Linked DNA regions of Homo sapiens: region 2 is linked to region 1. Evidence: fine-mapped expression QTL. A gene starts in region 1. The other region holds a variant in brackets. All regions are shown on one strand. Distances are between the middles of the regions. Region 1 holds the start of KCNS3 (potassium voltage-gated channel modifier subfamily S member 3). Region 2 overlaps KCNS3 (potassium voltage-gated channel modifier subfamily S member 3).

Region 1 (9,271 bases):
TGACATATACTGGATCCTGGAGATTAAGCAGGCATTTTCCGGTGGAGAAGGAAACACTATAGGAACGAGGCACCAGAAAGGCAAGACTCAGATGGCATGCAGTGAGCATAGAGGAGAGATGGGCCACTTCTGTCGGGCTGGAATGTGAGGAAAGTGCAGAGGAGAGGGGAGGGGAGGTGGTGATGAATGAGTAAGGCAGAGAGAAAGGTGTGAAGAGCTTGAAATGTGGTAAAAAATCAAGTTGTGACCAGAGTATGAGCAATCTGGAAGGCCATCCCTGGAAATATTTTCATGGGCTAACTTCTCAGACAGAGCCTTTCCTATACTAGAGTGTTATGAGGACCTGCCAGTGTGATGGAGTAAACACCTTCCTTTCCGTGCCTAGGGTCAGGCACAGGTGTTCTGTGGCACTCACCTTGGGCAATACTCAAGGGCCTTCAGAGGGTGATTCTGAGTACCTGAGGACAGCATTCCTTTGTGCCTGGAGACATAGCCTGTCACAGGGTTTTTTCTTTCTTTAATAATTTATAAAGTGTCTCCTTTTATCTATAGAAACATAAAGCTTTTAGACCTGGCAAGGGCCTTAAAGATGATATAGTCCCAACCCAAATGTAGGGCCCAAGAGGAAATATCACTGAGGTAATCAGGGACAGAGCTGAATCAGAATTCAAGTCTTTGTACTTGAAGATCATAAAGATTTAAGGAATTTTTCTTTTTCTTTTCTTTTTCTTTTTTTTTTAGACAGGGTCTCTCTCTGTCACCCAGGCTGGAGGGCAATGGCACCATCTCTGCTCACTGCAACCTCCACATCCCAGGTTCAAATAATCCTCCTGCCTCAGCCTCCCAACTAGCTGGGACTACAGGCATGCACCACCATGCCTGGATAATTTTTGTATTTGTTATATAGGCAGGGTTTTGCCATATTGCCAAGGCTGGTCTTGAACTCCTGGACTCAAGCAATCTACCCGCCTTGGCCTTCCAAAGTGCTAGGATTACAGATGTGAGCCACTGCACCCGGCCTTAAGAAACTTTTGATATAAAAATAATACCACAGGGCAGTTAGAGTAAGCATACAATAATTTTGTGAAAAGAGCATGATCATTGTAGCAATAATCTGAAATAAAAACATTCTAGCTGATTGAGAACTAAATTTAATTTAATGTAAATTTAGTTCTGAGCTTCCTGGCAGCCAAGCAAAGACAGCGATATGATGGTTTACATGTTTTATTTTTACCTGGCAAAAGGTAGCGTAGAAATAAGGGATTTAGGTTTTGACTAGGATCAGATGAAACTGGGCAGCCTTCAGTAATTCACTTCACAAACATGCAGATCCAACAGAAGTTCCTGGAAATTCAGTCTTCAAGGAGCTTATTGTCTAGTGGAAGACAAACAGTTAAAATCCCATATGGTAGATTCTATGAAAGTGGGAGGCAAAGGCTGCTGAGGGAGTGTGGAAAGGAAACACACAACACACAACCCAGGATGAGAGAGGCGGCTTCCCAGAGGGTCGTGATTATGATGTGATTATCCACTGAATCTCATCCTAAGGGAGAAGGGGTCTGTTGGGCAAAGCAAAGCTTGGTGATGGGGAACTGTGTTCTTAGCTGAGGAGGCACTGCTGTGCATTCAGAGAGTCAAGAAAAAGCATGGTGGGTCTGGGGAGTTGCAGGTGTTTCATGTGCTCAGACTAACTGGAGTGATATTCAGGCAGCTGGGTAGAAAGTGGCAAGTGAGAGGCACACACCAAATAAACGCTGCTCATTATGACTATACCCCTCACTCCCAACCTTCCTGCCAGAGATGAGCACATCTTCATTTTCACCTGCAGACCTGTTCCAATTTAAGAAGCTAATGAGCACTTCCCTTTCCTTCAGGACTAAGGCAAGTACTAATCTAGCTGATTTCTGTCATTTGAACTTTAGTGAGAATAAAAAGTCGGGGACAGGTTTGGCTCTGGGGAGGGAAGGGAAGACATGGATGTGTGATAGGTGGGTAAGAGAGGGAGACCTCCAAACGAGGCCTGGAAGACAGACTGAAATGCATCCCACATTAGTGGCATGTGTCTCCATCCACTCCAGGAGTCCTCTGAAACCACAGAGGAGTGAGCATTATTGTCAACGATGATTAAATGATTGACCCCTCACAGATTAAATGCATGGTTTATCTAGATGTTTCTCTATAGGCACAGTTAATTAAGAGGGAACGGGATGTCATATCGGGAGGCATAAAGACTGGGCAGGAAGTGGGTGTGTGGGGAAAAGGAGGCAGTTAGTTCACAGCATGCCCCCGGTAATGGAGACTGGGGTTGGGGAAGGGGCTACATACCGTGTGTGTGAATTTACCACTTTGCCTAGCTCAACCTTGGTCAACATTCAAGAGTAAACTTTTGGGGAGCAGACCTGCCTCAGGGGTCATCCGATGTGGTCCTTTTTATTATTTCATTGGCTTCACATGATTACCCTGGGAGAGAGGAAATTTCCTTACAGATGACAAAATCAGGGCTGAAAGACGAAGTGGCTCCCTGCAGGGCTCAGCAGGGTAAGAAGTCCTGTCTGTCTCTGTCTCAGATCTGTGGCCCTTCTCTGTGCCCACTCCTACATGCCCACCGTGGAGGCCCACCCCTTCTGTCCTCAGCTCCTGCAGATGCACAGGGGCCCTTACTGGCTCCCACTGTGTGTGCCTTCCCGACTGCTCACATGTTCCGCCCAGACCCCAGGAGAAAGACCTCACTGCCAACTCTTCTGCACTGCAGGTGCCTTCTGCAGTGCTTAGAGATTCTGAACATATTTCCTTCTCAAGTAAACCATGCTGGACTTTTTGGATAAACTTAGTGATTTTAAAATGATTAAATAGGTAACTGCTGGGAGAGATCTGGAAGCATTCTTCTAAGGTGTTGATAAAATGTAAATATATTTTTAGAACAATCTTAGAGCTTATGCTAAAGATGAACTATGTAAGAAAGTTACCTTCTTCAGCCACTTGTAAATAGCAGTGTGGACCAATGCTTTGGATCCTCTTCCACAGGAGAGGAGACAAGATTGGAGGAACCAAAGAACCATGGAATTAGGGACAAATGGCTCAGAACAGTGCTCTGCAGACACATGCATCTGTACTTTGCTTCCCAGAAGCCAAATGAAACTGTTGGAGCTTGGTGGGCTCCAGGCCTCAGGGGGAAGACCACCCTAGGCTTTATCTTTTCCTCTGCCCTTCCTGCCTGCTGTTAGCCTCTCCTCTGGACCAAAACTCCCTTTAAGGGGAAAACCTCCTCTTTGAAGCCCACAAGATACGGTGAGGATTACTGCCTTTTTCTGATTTCCAACGTGGGTTTTTCATTAAGCAAAGAACAATTAGAAAACCCACACATAACATAGGGTATTCAGTAAGTTCAGGAAAGTGTTTTCCACCATCTCTTTGCCCCCATTCCCTCCCCAGCGCTTGGCTCAAGGTCTGGAGCTTGAATCTGCATCGTCTTCCTAGGTGCTTGCCTGAGGTGAGTGGTCAGCGGGTGCTGGCTTGGGGGCAGCTGGCAGGGCGTATGCTGCGGGTAGGAACCCAGGGAACACTGGGCGCCTTAGCTTGGAGCAGCTGGCTCCGAGGAATTGTTCCACGTCTGCACAACTTAAAAATCTGCAGTTTGGGGGCGGGAGGGGGAGCGCGGGGGTGGGTCCCGAAGCGTCCCATTTCTCCTCCTGGCTGTTAACTGAGCGCTCTCGCTCAGTGCAGCGAGGCCAGCGATGCCTTCTGGACCACACGCTGTCCTCGCCGAGGTCCTGGTTTGTTCCTCAACGTCGGCTGAAGGCATCGTCCCCTGACTTCCTCTTCCATTCGTCCTTCCGAAAGGGGACCCGACTGGTTCCTCTTCTACATATGAGGCGCATCTGCTTGGTGCAAATGTCCAAGCACCTCTTCTGACTCGGTGAGTGGAGGAATAAGACAAAGCATCTTGTTCTGCACTGTGCCTGAGTCTTCAGGCAGCGGGACCGATGGCAAACATTGGCAGGAACTGGAGCTATATGTACTCTCCTTCGCACTTTGTTTTAAAACAAGTTTGGGCCTCGCGATTTCCTGAGGAAATCCAGGCAAATTAGCAAAGTGTCGCTTGGGCCGCGACTTTAGAAAGGCGGTTGCCCCAGCCGCCGGGGCCGCGGGGGAGGTCATCTTTTTCCCGCAGGGCCACGGCGCTTCCGGCCCAGGAGGGCGCGCAGGTGGGAGGCGCGGGGCGCGCTCCTGGTCCCACCCGGACAGCGCCTGCCGCTCCGGGGTGACTCTGCACTTGGGCCTGGGCGGGGGCGCGCGGCCGGCAGGGCAGCATCTAGGTCTATGGGTCTGTCCGCCTGTCTGGCGGTCGGAGCCCCGCAGTCCTCAGCCGCCCGCGCCCTCGGCCCGGGGCGCCCGGCTGCGGGCCCGAAGCGAGGGGCTGGCGGAGCTGCGACCAATGGGGCGGCGGCCGAGCGGCGGGCCCCGCCCCGTCCCGTCCGGCCCCGCCCCGCCCGCAGCTCCCGGGAGCCTCGCTCTAGCGGGGCGGGACCGACGGACAGACCGGCCGACGCGGGCCACCCCGCTCTCCTCGCCGCCGCGGCGGCAGGCGCGGGGCCGCGCCGCGAGGCCTGATCCCTGCAGCGCGGGCAGGCGGCGTCGCAGAGCGGAGCTAGCTGGATGCGTCCGGACTCCTGCAGGTACCTGGCTGGCGTCCCCACCTCCCTGCGCGCTCCGGAGACTTCTCCGGGCGACCCTGCAACTTTACCGCGCCTTCCCCCACCTTTTGCTGCCCCAGTCTCCTGTGGTCCAGGTCGCGGGTGCACGACCCCGAGGGTCTACGGCCGCAGAGCACTTTCCGTCCTTCTGGGCGTCTGGCCCGCGGCGCCCGCATCCTCTGGTCCCCAGAGCCCGCCGTCGCTGGAGCCCTAAGGCTCCGCCTGTTGCGTGAACTGCGGGCTGTTGAAGCGGTGGCTGGGTTGATTTGAAAGCCTCGGGGAAGGTATTTAGGATCAGCTTTCGGGGAGTGGGGTGGGCTATGGTCAGGGGGAGGACCACCTGGAGGCGGGAGAATCGATGAGCCGAAGAAAGGCGGCACCTCGCGTAGGGGCATCCCCGGGGCGTTTCCTTGGCCGGGAAGCCGTTCCTTCCCTTCCTCGAGAGGAGGCGCTTTCCTGGCGCTTGTAAATGCTTCCCGGGCCGTCTGCTCCGCCTTCTTTGTCATTCCTCCCCTCCCCTTTGCCCTGCAGCTGTGCTAGGCGCCCCGCGACAGTTGCAGGGAAGAGCGAACCCAGGGCCCTTGCTCTCGTGCAGCGCTGCGCCCTGGGTGGGGACGGCGTGAGGCTTGCAGCGCAGGTGTGGAGTCACTTGCGGACTCTGCGTTTGGATCAGTGGCAGTGGTGGGGAAGGGTCACCCCGGGGTCAGGAACTCCTCTTTTTTTTTTCGCGCCTTTCTGGGTGGCTGCCCGACCTCCTGAGGCACCTTGGCTAGCAAGCGAGCCAGTCTTGCCGGCAGGGGCCGCGGCGAGCCTGGCTGGGCGCCTTTCGCATTGCAGGGCTTGTCCTGCACCCCCAACCCCGCTCTGTCCCTTCTCGTTCATTTGGAGAAAGGAGCACCTTTTGCATTCTTGATGTCTCCCCCCGGTTTTGTCTGGGGAGACCGAGCCGAAAGCTTCACTCGGGTGGCCCGCAGCAGGGGCAGAGGACAGCAAAGAGCTACCTCCACCTGCCAAAATGACCCAGGGGCCCTGGTTTGGTGCCAAGGCGTGAAGTGGGGGGAGGGGCGGTAGGTGTTCCTTACGTTCCTGCCGGAGAGTAGCTTTGTGGTTGGCCCGGAGCCTTCGTTCGGGTTTTTTGTCTTTCACCCTACCCTCTGAAAATACTGGAGCAGATGAGTACAAACAGTTCAGAAGCCTTTCCTGTTTCTTTCCCTGTATTTACTCAAGCGATTTGCGTAACCATTCACTTGGAACTGTGTAAGTCACTCCTAGTTGCCCCCCTTCTTAGACTATTTGCAAATACCTGCCCAGGTAAACAGGAAGCACGCACCTATCTCTTAGCTGAAGGCATATGCCCTCGTGCTTTGTCTTCCCTGCATATCTGGAGCCGAAGAGGTGGCTTTGATTCTCTAGCTGAACTTGGTGTAATGTGCAGGCTCCACTTCTTACCTGGGTGGTGACCTTCTTGAGGAGATTGACTCGTTCAGTATGCATTTCCAACCAGCCCGCCATGGGCCAGGCCCCAGGATGCACTCGGGGACAGACAGCAAATGGATGATATAATTTCTGCACCCAGTCTAGTCTGTTCTTTCTTTCTCACCAGCTTCCCTTCTTCTCTTGTTCTAATATTATGTTTGTCGTTTCTGAACTAGGAATTGTCAATATTGGGATCCGGAGAAGGTCATATGAAGGTGCCATAGAACTCTGAATCCAAAGCATGTTGTGAATATACTAAGGAGACTTGCGGGATCAGTATTAATTGAATCTTTTGTCTGACCCATAATTGCCTGAATAGAGCCATTGATGAATGCAGCTACGCTAAGGTTTTGCTGGTCAAGTGTATGAGGGCAAATTGGGAGGTCAGAAGCAGTCTTTGTTCTGTTCTGAAATATTATAATATTAAAAATCCAAAGCTCTGGAGCTTGAGTTTGCCAGCAAAGCACCAACTGAGTATCATCATCTTCTTTTAAGAAGGAAGGGGGAGAGTGGGAACTGCAGCTCCCTCCTGTCTTCAGTGGGTTTTGCCCTTCACTGTAATTCTTCACAGACGTGCATCCCTCTGTTCTACCACCCATCTCAATCTGCCCTGTGTCTGGCATTTGCCATTGGAATGTGTGTCAGCTTTGAGAGAGTAGGCACCACAGGGTTTTCCTCCTCCTTTTCCTTCTATTTTTTAATAGATAACATTTATTAGCTGCATACTATATATCAGATACTCTGCTAGGCACTTTTCCAGGCATTATCTCATTTAATTCCCATAACAACTGCATGAGGATGTGATGCTTGCTTTCTTCACTGCAGTATTGCTGTGGGAGCCAGCAGTAGATGGAACCCCCCAGGTGCATGTTGAGTCAGATGGGAGGCCAGTGGGAAATGGTGGGCCTGAGGTCTCACTAGGAGGAAGGACGACTCTGCAGGGTATGTTGAAGCAGAGAAGGTGGGTGTGTTTATTGACTCTGCTTATCAGGTGTCAGGAAAGTGCATCTTCCAGAGTGCCACCTGTGTGAAATACCCACAAAGAAACATCATAGAGAAGAGAATAGGATGTGGGGACCCAGTTTCCAGCTGTGATATCTATTTCTTTATGGCTCCTTGACTTGACATGTCATTTTGCTAATCTGGGTCTTGGTCTGTTTAGCTGCACTGACCTAGATCTCTAATATTTGTTGTTACGCTGTACTAGGCACTAAAAGCTAAAAGCTTTTACATGTATGAACTCACTTCATCCTGATGACAATCTTAGGATGGTAGGTTCTATTATCACCGTATTTTACAGGAGGAAAGAGAGACAAACTGAGTAACTTGTACAAGGTCACCCAGCCCGGAAAAGGTGAAGCTAGGATTCTATCCCTTGCAGTCTGACTGCAGAGCCACTGTGAGATTCAGTTTTCCTCATTTATTCCTACAGTTCCAACACTGTTCCCTGTGCTTAGTGGGATCTCGGACTACATTTGTTGAACAGTGACAGAGGGGGCTTACAGTTACCAAGTGACTTTTGGGTCCCATGTCTCAGCCTTAAAAGGAATCTCAAAGACTGCGTTAGCAAAATATTATTTTTGCCTTTGACAAAATGGTCTGCTTTTCGGTGAAATTCTGCCCAGCTGGTTAGGAAAAAAGGAAGATAAACCATAAAGATCATGGGCCAGGGAAACATTATGGTGAGTTTCAGAAAATGTGTTTATCAATATAAGAAATTCAGAAAAACCACAGAACACTTTGTACTCCGACGCAAATTTGTCAAGTAAATCAACCAGTGACCAATTCACAAGTGCTTATTGTATGGGTGCTAAGTGCCCAGTACTACAGGCAATGAAGGTAGGCAGAATCTATGACATGGTCTCTGAGCTTGAACTTATAGTGGATCTGGAGACTCCAGATCAGTGAGACAAGATAGAACAATACAAGATGCTAAATGTTTAAGTCCTGATAAAAATCACAATGACTCGGTCACATTTGTATAACCTATTGTGGTTTGTAGGAACTTTCACATGGGATATCTCATTCCAGTCCTCAGAGCAACTGAGAGTTATAAGCTATAGGTGGGACAGAAGTTAGGAAGCCCATATTGCTGATGAAGAAATTAAGGCAAACTGAGCCTTGAACTTGGACACAGTCAGGGGTCTTCTGACTTTAAGTCCAGCATCTTTCTGCCTCACTTCTCTCTGGAGCTAGAGAGCAGAACAGGAGGGAGTGAGCTATCGAGAGTCCTTGGGGAGTGGGGAACTGAGTTTGAATTTCATCCTGGACCTGGCCTTTGCTTGCTGGTCTTGACTACTGTGGGTGCTTATTGGAGGCAGGGGATGGGGAGTAAGTACAAGCTGGGGAGGAGGAGAAAGAGGAGAAGAGTGTTGTTGTTTTATTGTTTCAGGGGCCTGCTGTTTTGTGAAGCCTGGAGTGAATACTCAATTATCATGAACATAATAACAAGGCTTAAAATGTACAACAAAATGTAGAAACTGATTTAGAATTTTCATCCCTGTTTTTCTTTATCATTTCTCTAGATCATCTTTTGAAACTTTTTAGCATATCTGCACATTATACTTTTTTTTCACAGTTGTTAAGAGGATCAAAATCTACACATTATAAAAGTAAACTCTTTAATAAGCTAAAATAGTTACTAGGCTAGGTTGTGGTATTTTTCTTGTGGGCAAGAGGTCTCATTCTCTTTGGAATCCTGCACAGCCTTGCACTACGATTTGCTTTGAGGAGATACTGTATAAATATTGTCTTCAGTTGCACAAGTATTGAACGATAAAGGCATAAGATCTGCTTTTAGCCAATAATGTTACAGTTAAGCAGTTAATGTTGGCAGCAGCCAGCCTCAGTGAGTTTGGTGAAGTGCCAAATGAATGAAGTATCTTGCTGAGTATTCTACTAATCAGCCATCCGAGGACTTACCAGATGCTCACCAAAGGTGACATAATGATTAACTTATATAGTCACATATATGTATTCTCATTATATATTCAAATCCGTGCATACATTCATTCAACAAGTATTTGAGTACTTACATGATGTTATGTACTATGCTAGGTGCTGGGTATACTGTGGTAAAGGAAACGGTGGGGGGTTGGGGT
Region 2 (9,271 bases), 30 kb after region 1:
ATGGGATGGCTGGGTCAAATGGTATTTCTAGTTCTAGATCCCTGAGGAGTCGCCACACTGACTTCCACAATGGTTGAACTAGTTTACAGTCCCACCAACAGTGTAAAAGTGTTCCTATTTCTCCACATCCTCTCCAGCACCTGTGGTTTCCTGAACTTTTTAATGATTGCCATTGTAACTGGTGTGAGATGGTATCTCATTGTGGTTTTGATTTGTATTTCTCTGATAGCCAGGGATGATGAGCATTTTTTCATGTGTCTTTTGGCTGCATAAATGTCTTCTTTTGAGAAGTGTCTGTTCATATCCTTCGCCCACTTGTTGATGGGGTTGTTTGTTTTTTTCTTGTAAATTTGTTGGAGTTCTTTGTATATTCTGGATATTAGCCCTTTGTCAGATGAGTAGATTGCAAAAATGTTCTCCCATTCTGTAGGTTGCCTGTTCACTCTGATGGTAGTTTCTTTTGCTGTGCAGAAGCTCTTTAGTTTAATTAGATCCCATTTGTCAATTTTGGCTTTTGTTGCCATTGCTTTTGGTGTTTTAGACATGAAGTCCTTGCCCATGCCTATGTCCTGAATGGTATTGCCTAGGTTTTCCTCTAGGGTTTTTATGGTTTTAGGTCTAACATTTAAGTCTTTAATCCATCTTGAATTAATTTTTGTATAAGATGTAAGGAAGGGATCCAGTTCCAGCTTTCTACATATGGCTAGCCAGTTTTCCCAGCACCATTTATTAAATAGGGAATCCTTTCCGCATTTCTTCTTTTTGTCAGGTTTGTCAAAGATCAGATGGTCGTAGATGTGTGGTATTATTTCTGAGGGCTCTGTTCTGTTCCATTGGTCTATATCTCTGTTTTGGTACCAGTACCATGCTGTTTTGGTTACTGTAGCCTTGTAGTATAGTTTGAAGTCAGGTAGCGTGATGCCTCCAGCTTTGTTCTTTGGGCTTAGGATTGTCTTGGTAATGCGGGCTCTTTTTTGGTTCCATATGAACTTTAAAGTAGTTTTTTCCAATTCTGTGAAGAAAGTCATTGGTAGCTTGATGGGGATGGCATTGAATCTATAAATTACCTTGGGCAGTGTGGCCATTTTCACAATAATGATTCTTCCTATCCATGAGCATGGAATGTTCTTCCATTTGTTTGTATCCTCTTTTATTTCATTGAGCAGTAGTTTGTAGTTCTCCTTGAAGAGGTCCTTCACATCCCTTGTAAGTTGGATTCCTAGGTATTTTATTCTCTTTGAAGCAAGTGCGAATGGGACTTCACTCATGATTTGGCTCTCTGTTTGTCTGTTATTGGTGTATAAGAATGCTTGCGATTTTTGCACATTGATTTTGTATCCTGAGACTTTGCTGAAGTTGCTTATCAGCTTAAGGAGATTTTGGGCTGAGATGATGGGGTTTTCTAAATATACAATCATGTCATCTGCAAACAGGGACAATTTGACTTCCTCTTTTCCTAATTGAATACCCTTTATTTCTTTCTCCTGCCTGATTGCCCTGGCCAGAATTTCCAACACTATGTTGAATAGGAGTGGTGAGAGAGGGCATCCCTGTCTTGTGCCAGTTTTCAAAGGGAATGCTTCCAGTTTTTGCCCATTCAGTATGATATTGGCTGTGGGTTTGTCATAAATAGCTCTTATTATTTTGAGATACATCTCATCAATGCCTAATTTATTGAGAGTTTTTAGCATGAAGGGCTGTTGAATTTTGTCAAAGGCCTTTTCTGCATCTATTGAGATAATCATGTGGCTTTTGTCTTTGGTTCTGTTTATATGCTGGATTACGTTTATTGATTTGCATATGTTGAACCAGTCTTGCATCCCAGGGATGAAGCCCACTTGATCATGGTGGGTAAGCTTTTTGATGTGCTGCTGGATTTGGTTTGCCCGTATTTTATTGAGGATTTTTGCATCGATGTTCATCAAGGATATTGGTCTAAAATTCTCTTTTTTTGTTGTGTCTCTGCCAGGCTTTGGTATCATGATGATGCTGGCCTGATAAGATGAGTTAGGGAGGATTCCCTCTTTTTCTATTGATTGGAATAGTTTCAGAAGGAATGGTACCAGCTCCTCCTTGTACCTCTGATGAATTCGGCTGTGAATCCGTCTGGTCCTGGACTTTTTTTGGTTGGTAGGCTATTAATTATTGCCTCAATTTCAGAGCCTGTTATTGGTCTATTCAGGGATTCAACTTCTTCGTGGTTTAATCTTGGGAGGGTGTATGTGTCCAGGAATTTATCCATTTCTTCTAGATTTTCTAGTTTATTTGCATAGAGATGTTTATAGTATTCTCTGATACTAGTTTGTATTTCTGTGGGATCGGTGGTGATATCCCCTTTGTCACTTTTTATTGTGTCTATTTGATTCTTCTCTCTTTTCTTCTTTATTAGTCTTGCTAGCGGTCTATCTATTTTGTTGATCTTTTCAAAAAACCAGCTCCTGGATTCATTGATTTTTTGAAGGGTTTTTTGTGTCTCTATCTCCTTCAGTTCTTCTGTGATCTTAGTTATTTCTTGCCTTCTGCTAGCTTTTGAATGTGTTTGCTCTTGCTTCTCTAGTTCTTTTAATTGTGATGTTAGGTTGTCAGTTTTAGATGTTTCCTGCTTTCTCTTGTGGGCATTTAGTGCTGTAAATTTCCCTCTACACACTGCTTTAAATGTCCCAGAGATTCTGGTATGTTGTGTCGTTGTTCTCATTGGTTTCAAAGAACATCTTTATTTCTGCCTTCATTTCATTATGTACCCAGTAGTCATTCAGGAGCAGGTTGTTCAGTTTCCATGTAGTTGAGTGGTTTTGAGTGAGTTTCTTAATCCTGAGTTCTAGTTTGATTGCACTGTGGTCTGAGAGACTGTTTGTTATAATTTCTGTTCTCTTACATTTGCTGAGGAGTCCTTTACTTCCAACTATGTGGTCAATTTTGGAATAAGTGTGATGTGGTGCTGCGAAGAATGTATGTTCTGTTGATATGTGGTGTAGAGTGCTGTAGATGTCTATTGGGTCTGCTTGGTGCAGAGCTGAGTTCAATTCCTGGATATCCTTGTTAACTTTCTGTCTCGTTGATCTGTCTAATGTTGACAGTGGGGTGTTAAAGTCTCCCATTATTAGTGTGTGGGAGTCTAAGTCTCTTTGTAGATCTCTAAGGACTTGCTTTATGAATCTGGGTGCTCCTATATTGGGTGCATATATATTTAAGATAGTTAGCTCTTCTTGTTGAATTGATCCTTTTACCATTATGTAATGGCCTTCTTTGTCTCTTTTGATCTTTGTTGGTTTAAAGTCTGTTTTATCAGAGACTAGGATTGCAACCACTGGTTTCTTTTGCTTTCCATTTGCTTGGTAGATCTTCCTCCATCCCTTTATTTTGAGCCTATGTGTGTCTCTGCACGTGAGATGGGTCTCCTGAATACAGCGCACTGATGGGTCTTGACTCTTTGTCCAATTTGCCAGTCTGTGTCTTTTAATTGGAACATTTAGCCCATTTACATTTAAGGTTAATATTGTTATGTGTGAATTTGATCCACTCCTTATGATGTTAGCTGGTTATTTTGCTCGTTAGTTGATGCAGTTTATTCCTAGCATCGATGATCTTTACAATTTGTCATGTTTTTGCAGTGGCTGGTACTGGTTGTTCCTTTCCATGTTTAGTGCTTCCTTCAGGAGCTCTTGTAAGGCAGGCCTGGTGGTGACAAAATCTCTCAGCATTTGCTTGTCTGTAAAGGATTTTATTTCTCCTTCGCTTAAGAAGCTTAGTTTGGCTGGATATGAAATTCTGGGTTGAAAATTCTTTTCCTTAAGAATGTTGAATATTGGCCCCCACTCTCTTCTGGGTTGTAGAGTTTCTGCTAAGAGATCCGCTGTTAGTCTGATGGGTTTCCCTTTGTGGGCAACCCGACCTTTCTCTCTGGCTGCCCTTAACATTTTTTCCTTCATTTCAACTTTGGTGGATCTGACAATTGTGTGTCTTGGAGTTGCTCTTCTCGAGGAGTATCTTTGTGGCATTCTCTGTATTTCCTGAATTTGAATGTTGGCCTACCTTTCTGGGTTGGGGATGTTCTCCTGGATAATATCCTGCAGAGTGTTTTCGAACTTGGTTCCATTCTCCCCGTCACTTTTAGGTACACCAATCAGACGTAGATTTGGTCTTTTCACATAGTCCCATATTTCTTGGAGGCTTTGTTCATTTCTCTTTACTCTTTTTTCTCTAAACTTCTCTTCTCACTTCATTTCATTCATTTAATCTTCAATCACTGATACCCTTTCTTCCAGTTGATTGAATCGGCTACTGAAGCTTGTGCATTCGTCATGTAGTTCTCGTGCCATGGTTTTCAGCTCCGTCAGGTCATTTAAGGACTTCTCTACCCCGATTATTCT[C/T]GTTAGCCATTCTTCTAATCTTTTTTCAAGGTTTTTAGCTTCTTTGCCATGGGTTCGAACTTCCTCCTTTAGCTCGGAGAAGTTTGATCGTCTGAAGCCTTCTTTTCTCAACTCGTCAAAGACATTCTCCATCCAGCTTTGTTCCGTTGCTGGCGTGGAGCTGCATCCCTATGGAGGGGGAGAGGTACTCTGATTTTTAGAATTTTCAGTTTTTCTGCTCTGTTTTTTCCCCATCTTTGTGGTTTTATCTACCTTTGGTCTTTGATAATGGTGACGTACAGATGGGGTTTTGGTGTGGATGTCCTTTCTGTTTGTTAGTTTTCCGTCTAGCAGTCAGGACCCTCAGCTGCAGGTCTGTTGGAGTTTGCTAGAGGTCCACTCCAGACCCTATTTGCCTGGGTATCAGCCGTGGAGGCTGCAGAACAGCGAATATTGCTGAACAGCAAATGTTGCTGCCTGATCGTTCCTCTGGAAGCTTTGTCTCAGAGGGGTACCCGGCCGTGTGAAGTGTCAGTCTGCCCCTACTGGGGGGTGCCTCCCAGATAGGCTGCTCGGGGGTCAGGGACTCACTTGAGGAGGCAGTCTGTCCATTCTCAGATCTCAAACTCTGTACTGGGAGAACCACTACTCCCTTCAAAGCTGTCAGACAGGGACATTTAAGTCTGCAGAGGTTTCTGCTGCCTTTTGTTTGGCTATGCCCGCCCCAGAGGTGGAGTCTACAGAGGCAGGCAGGCCTCCTTGAGCTGCAGTGGGCTCCACCCAGTTCGAGCTTCTGGGCTGCTTTGTTTACCTACTCAAGCCTCAGCAATGGCGGGCGCCCCTCCCCCAGCCTCGCTGCCACCTTGCAGTTCTATCTCAGACTGCTGTGCTAGCAATGAGTGAGGCTCCGTGGGCGTGGGACCCTCCAAGCCATGCATGGGATATAATCTCCTGGTGTGCTGTTTGCTAAGACCGTTGGAAAAGTGCGGTATTAGGGTGGGAGTGACCTGATTTTCCAGGTGCCATCTGTCACCCCTTACCTTAGCTAGGAAAGGGAATTCCCTGACCCTTTGTTCTTCCCAGGTGAGGCAATGCCTTGCCCTGCTTCGGCTCACACTCGGTAGGCTGCACCCACTGTCCTGCCCCCACTGTCTGACGAGCCCCAGTGAGATGAACCCGGTACCTCAGTTGGAAATGCAGAAATCACTCGTCTTCTGCGTTGCTCATGCTGGGAGCTGTAGACCGGAGCTGTTCCTATTCAGCCATCTTGGAACTGCCCCACCTCGGGTTATTGACATTTTAGATAGGCTAACTGAGGATGTTCTTGTTGAGAAGATATCATTTGAGTGAAGACTTGAGGGAAGTGAGAGGGCAAGCCATGCAGAAGAAAGAGCATTCCAGGCAGAGGGTTCAGCCACTGCAGAGGCCCTGAATTAGGATATGGCTCACTTGGCATGATAAGCATTAGCAAGGAGACCAGGATGACAGATGGGAATGATAGAGGGTGAGAGGAGTAGGAGGTAAGATCAGACAAATGAAGTTAGGGGAGGGTGGATGGTGGGCACTTTGACTCTGAGTAGGATGGAAGCCACTGGAGGGTTGAACATAGGAGGGACATGATGTGATGCACATTTTAACAGGATCTCTAGCTAAAGGATTCTTAATCCTTCCTTTTGCCATGAACCCCTTTGGGAGTCTGAGAAACCCTATGGACCCCTTTTCAGAATAGCGTGTTTAAACACAAAAGATGAAACCTACAGGATGTAAAGGAATCCAGTTATGTTGAAATGCAATTACCAAAATAGTAAAAGCAATTTATGAGTTAGCAATATATTTGCTTATTAATTCTTTAAATAAAATCTAGCAGTAGGTCTATAACTACTGTGATTCCAAAGTAATAATGAGTATAAATGATATTTTGAGATCTCTTCAATAACTCTGATAGGATATGAAGCTATTCATACTTCTATTGGTGTGAAGTCATTGGCACTGCTAATACACACTACCCTGGGCCAATGCCTGCATTTTTAATGGAAGGAATTGCTAAAATTTTAGTTAGAGATTGGTGAAAATAAATATTTTTTTCTGTCTAAATTCAAGGACCTCCTGAATTTCAACACAGACCCCCTACTCTAACTCTTAGGTGAACAGTTTAAATGGAATACAAAAGAGGAGAGGGATGAAGTAATGAAATGTTGCTGTTTCTGTTGTTGTCAGCATATCAGTTGGCACTACTGGAATTCACTGCTTGCCATTTCAGATCACTGGGATTCTTGGTGGATTGGCACACCCAGTGGAAGTGTCTACTTTTTTTTTTTTTAAATGTTCTAGGAAGAGCAGTAACTCCAAGAGGTCTTTATAGTCTCTGATTGGTTCCTTGTGGCTAAATCTTTCAGGAGGCCCGAGGTGTGGTCCTTTTGTAGCCGCAGATTCTCTGTGTGGCCACAGGCAATCAATCCATTCTCCTCTCCCATAGACATCTCTTACTTTGGTATTCCTAATTCACAAAGATGTGGATAGTACAGGCAGAATTCTTCATATTTTAAAAGAAATAATCTGTATAAATAGCTCTAGGTCATAGGCTACTTCCTATAGCCCAAGTCTACCATTTTCTGCTCTCTGTCCATACCACGAGCTTTCCTGCCACCATGCTTTTGTATGTGTTCTTTTCTCTCCTTGGAGAAGAGCCTTCTTACCCTTACCTGGCTCCTTTACTTGTTCATACCTGACTCGCTCTTCAAGGATTATCTCCAAATACTACCTATTCATGTAGCTGTCCCCGCTTCCTTATCTCGAGGGACTCTACCTCTTCTGAACTTCCTCAATACCGTCTCTGTACCTTTTCCCATGCCTGACATACTACTGGACCTTGTATTGCCGTTATTTATTTACCCATTTACCCTCCTTTTTGTTCTTCTCAGCTCCTGTAAGCTTTGAGGGCAAGATCCATGTTATCTTTTGTCCTTGGTAGTTCCCAGGATACTGCCTGTCATAAAGCAGCCATGAATGAATAGCATTAGCTCAGGATAGTGGAGGGCTTTGGCTGGGGGCTGGGGATCCTTTCTCATGTGAATCTATAAGTTCATTTGATATCTATCTCATTCCCCTTTTCCTCTGCCCAGATGCTGACTGGAGCTGCTTATGACCTTTTATTTTTCTATGTAGAAATAACTATTTTCATAAATATTTTATAATACCTATTTATTTAAAGTAAGAAATGTACACAATGTTGAGATGTAGAGAGTAGAAAGCAAAATCACTCCAAATTCCATTATCCAGAGACAATGAATTTAACATTTTGGTATATATTCTCATTTACTCTAAAAAGACATATTTTACAAAGATAGGATCATGCTATATATTGCGTCATAATTATTTCTCTTTTGTACTTAGCATATTGTGACTTTTTAATGGTTTTACATGCAGTAGAGCTGTAGTAGCTAAGAGAATGGCTTTGAAGAATTATTGTTTGGATTCGAATCATGGAGTTGTCACTTAATAGCTGTTGACTCCCTAAAATCAGTTAACTTCTCTATTTACCAGTTTCTCCATCTGCAAAACGAATGCAATAAAAACACCACTTGTCTGAGTGCTGCAAGGATTAAATGGATTTAGACATGTAAAAAGCACAGGGCCAGACTTAGTATAAGGAAGCTGTAACTTCTGTAACTTTTATTATTTCAGCATTTTTAATGGCTACAGAGTATTCATTGCATGGCTACCCCCAGTCTATTTAATCATTCCTCTATTGATGGACGTGCAGGCTGTCTTTGACATTTCACTCTTACAAATAATGATGCAGTGAACAACCTTGTACATGCATCTTTCAACGCTTGTCTGATTTATTTCTTCAGGACACATGCCAAAATGTGAAACCCTGGGATTTTGTGATACACATTGCTATGATGTCCTCCAGAAAGGTTTCTTTAAGAAGTTTTCACTGCTATCATTGTATGATACTTTCCTGCTCACTCCAAAGCTGCTTGCTTTCAGTTCCTCTTTATCGGCCTGTGTTAGTGCAGTTGTTTGATGCATTCAAATGGGACAGCCCTAGCCTCTGTCTCCAGCTAGCCATGCGGTAGGGAGATGACTACAAGGTGGATGGAGCCAGTGCAGTTCCTTTCTGTGGCCAGGAGCAGTTGCATGGACCACTCAGAGTGACCCTAGAGCCCTGTCAACACTCAGTGACTGTGTTGTACTTCCTTCTATGAGGTGCACACCCTTCCGCAGGGAAGCGCCTGGTCTGCCTGTCTCTCCTTTCCTTTCTCTAGATTTTCTTGCCAAGGCAACACAGCTGCGTCCCTGCTGCCTCCCCTCCATTCCCCAGGGGGAGGTTGTCTAGAAACATAGAGCAGGAGGAAAGGAAGGTGGTATTTAGTTACCCATGCATCAAGTCTTGGGATTCCTGCAGTTGGTATGGCATTTACTCACTCTGAATGACCAAGAAAAATATAATTTATACTAACCTTTCAAAAATAATTTAGAGACTTTGCTTTAGAAAGCACTTACTGGTTTGTCCCTGAATATATTAGACCCTGAGAAGTTTTCATTTTCTTTTAGGGACAGATTTTTAAAAATCATGTTAATTCAAGGATTTGCCATATTAACTTAAGGTACTTCTTGAAATTTGACAGTTAAATTTGGACAGAGTTAGTAGTGGAGGGATATTCTTAGTCATGCCCTGTCTGAATCAACTGGAAGATGTTTGATTCTGATTGCTTTGGATTATAGGATTTAAATATCAGTACATTTTTTTTCTAGCACACTAAATCCAATTATGGCAGTATGATTATGATATTTTAATTTTATTTAATTAAACACTGGGTGACAGTTTTCAATAGTTAAGCCAGATAGAGGTAGGGTTGGATTTCACCTTTTGTTATTATTCATATAATTTTATTGCTCTCAGATTTTATTAAAAG

What was found. PIP is the estimated chance that this variant, and not a neighbour inherited with it, causes the effect. A credible set is the group of variants that fine-mapping cannot tell apart.
Region 2: its variant is the best candidate, but not a certain one, in a credible set for the expression of KCNS3 in aorta (GTEx, PIP 0.58).

The regions. Positions count from the first base shown.
Region 1 is chr2:17,874,131-17,883,401 of GRCh38, forward strand. It overlaps KCNS3 (potassium voltage-gated channel modifier subfamily S member 3), which reads left to right and starts at 4,537. Exons shown (of 3, transcript NM_002252.5): 1 at 4,537-4,676. LOC124907737 (a long non-coding RNA gene) reads right to left here and starts at 2,432. Exons shown (of 2, transcript XR_007086226.1): 1 at 1,235-2,432. RefSeq lists silencers at 4,148-4,307, 4,318-4,517, 4,608-4,657.
Region 2 is chr2:17,903,977-17,913,247 of GRCh38, forward strand. All of the region lies in intron 1 of KCNS3 (potassium voltage-gated channel modifier subfamily S member 3), which reads left to right. Among named protein-coding and RNA genes, the nearest start is that of KCNS3, 30 kb to the left of the region's middle. The variant C/T (reference allele first, on the strand shown) is at 4,371.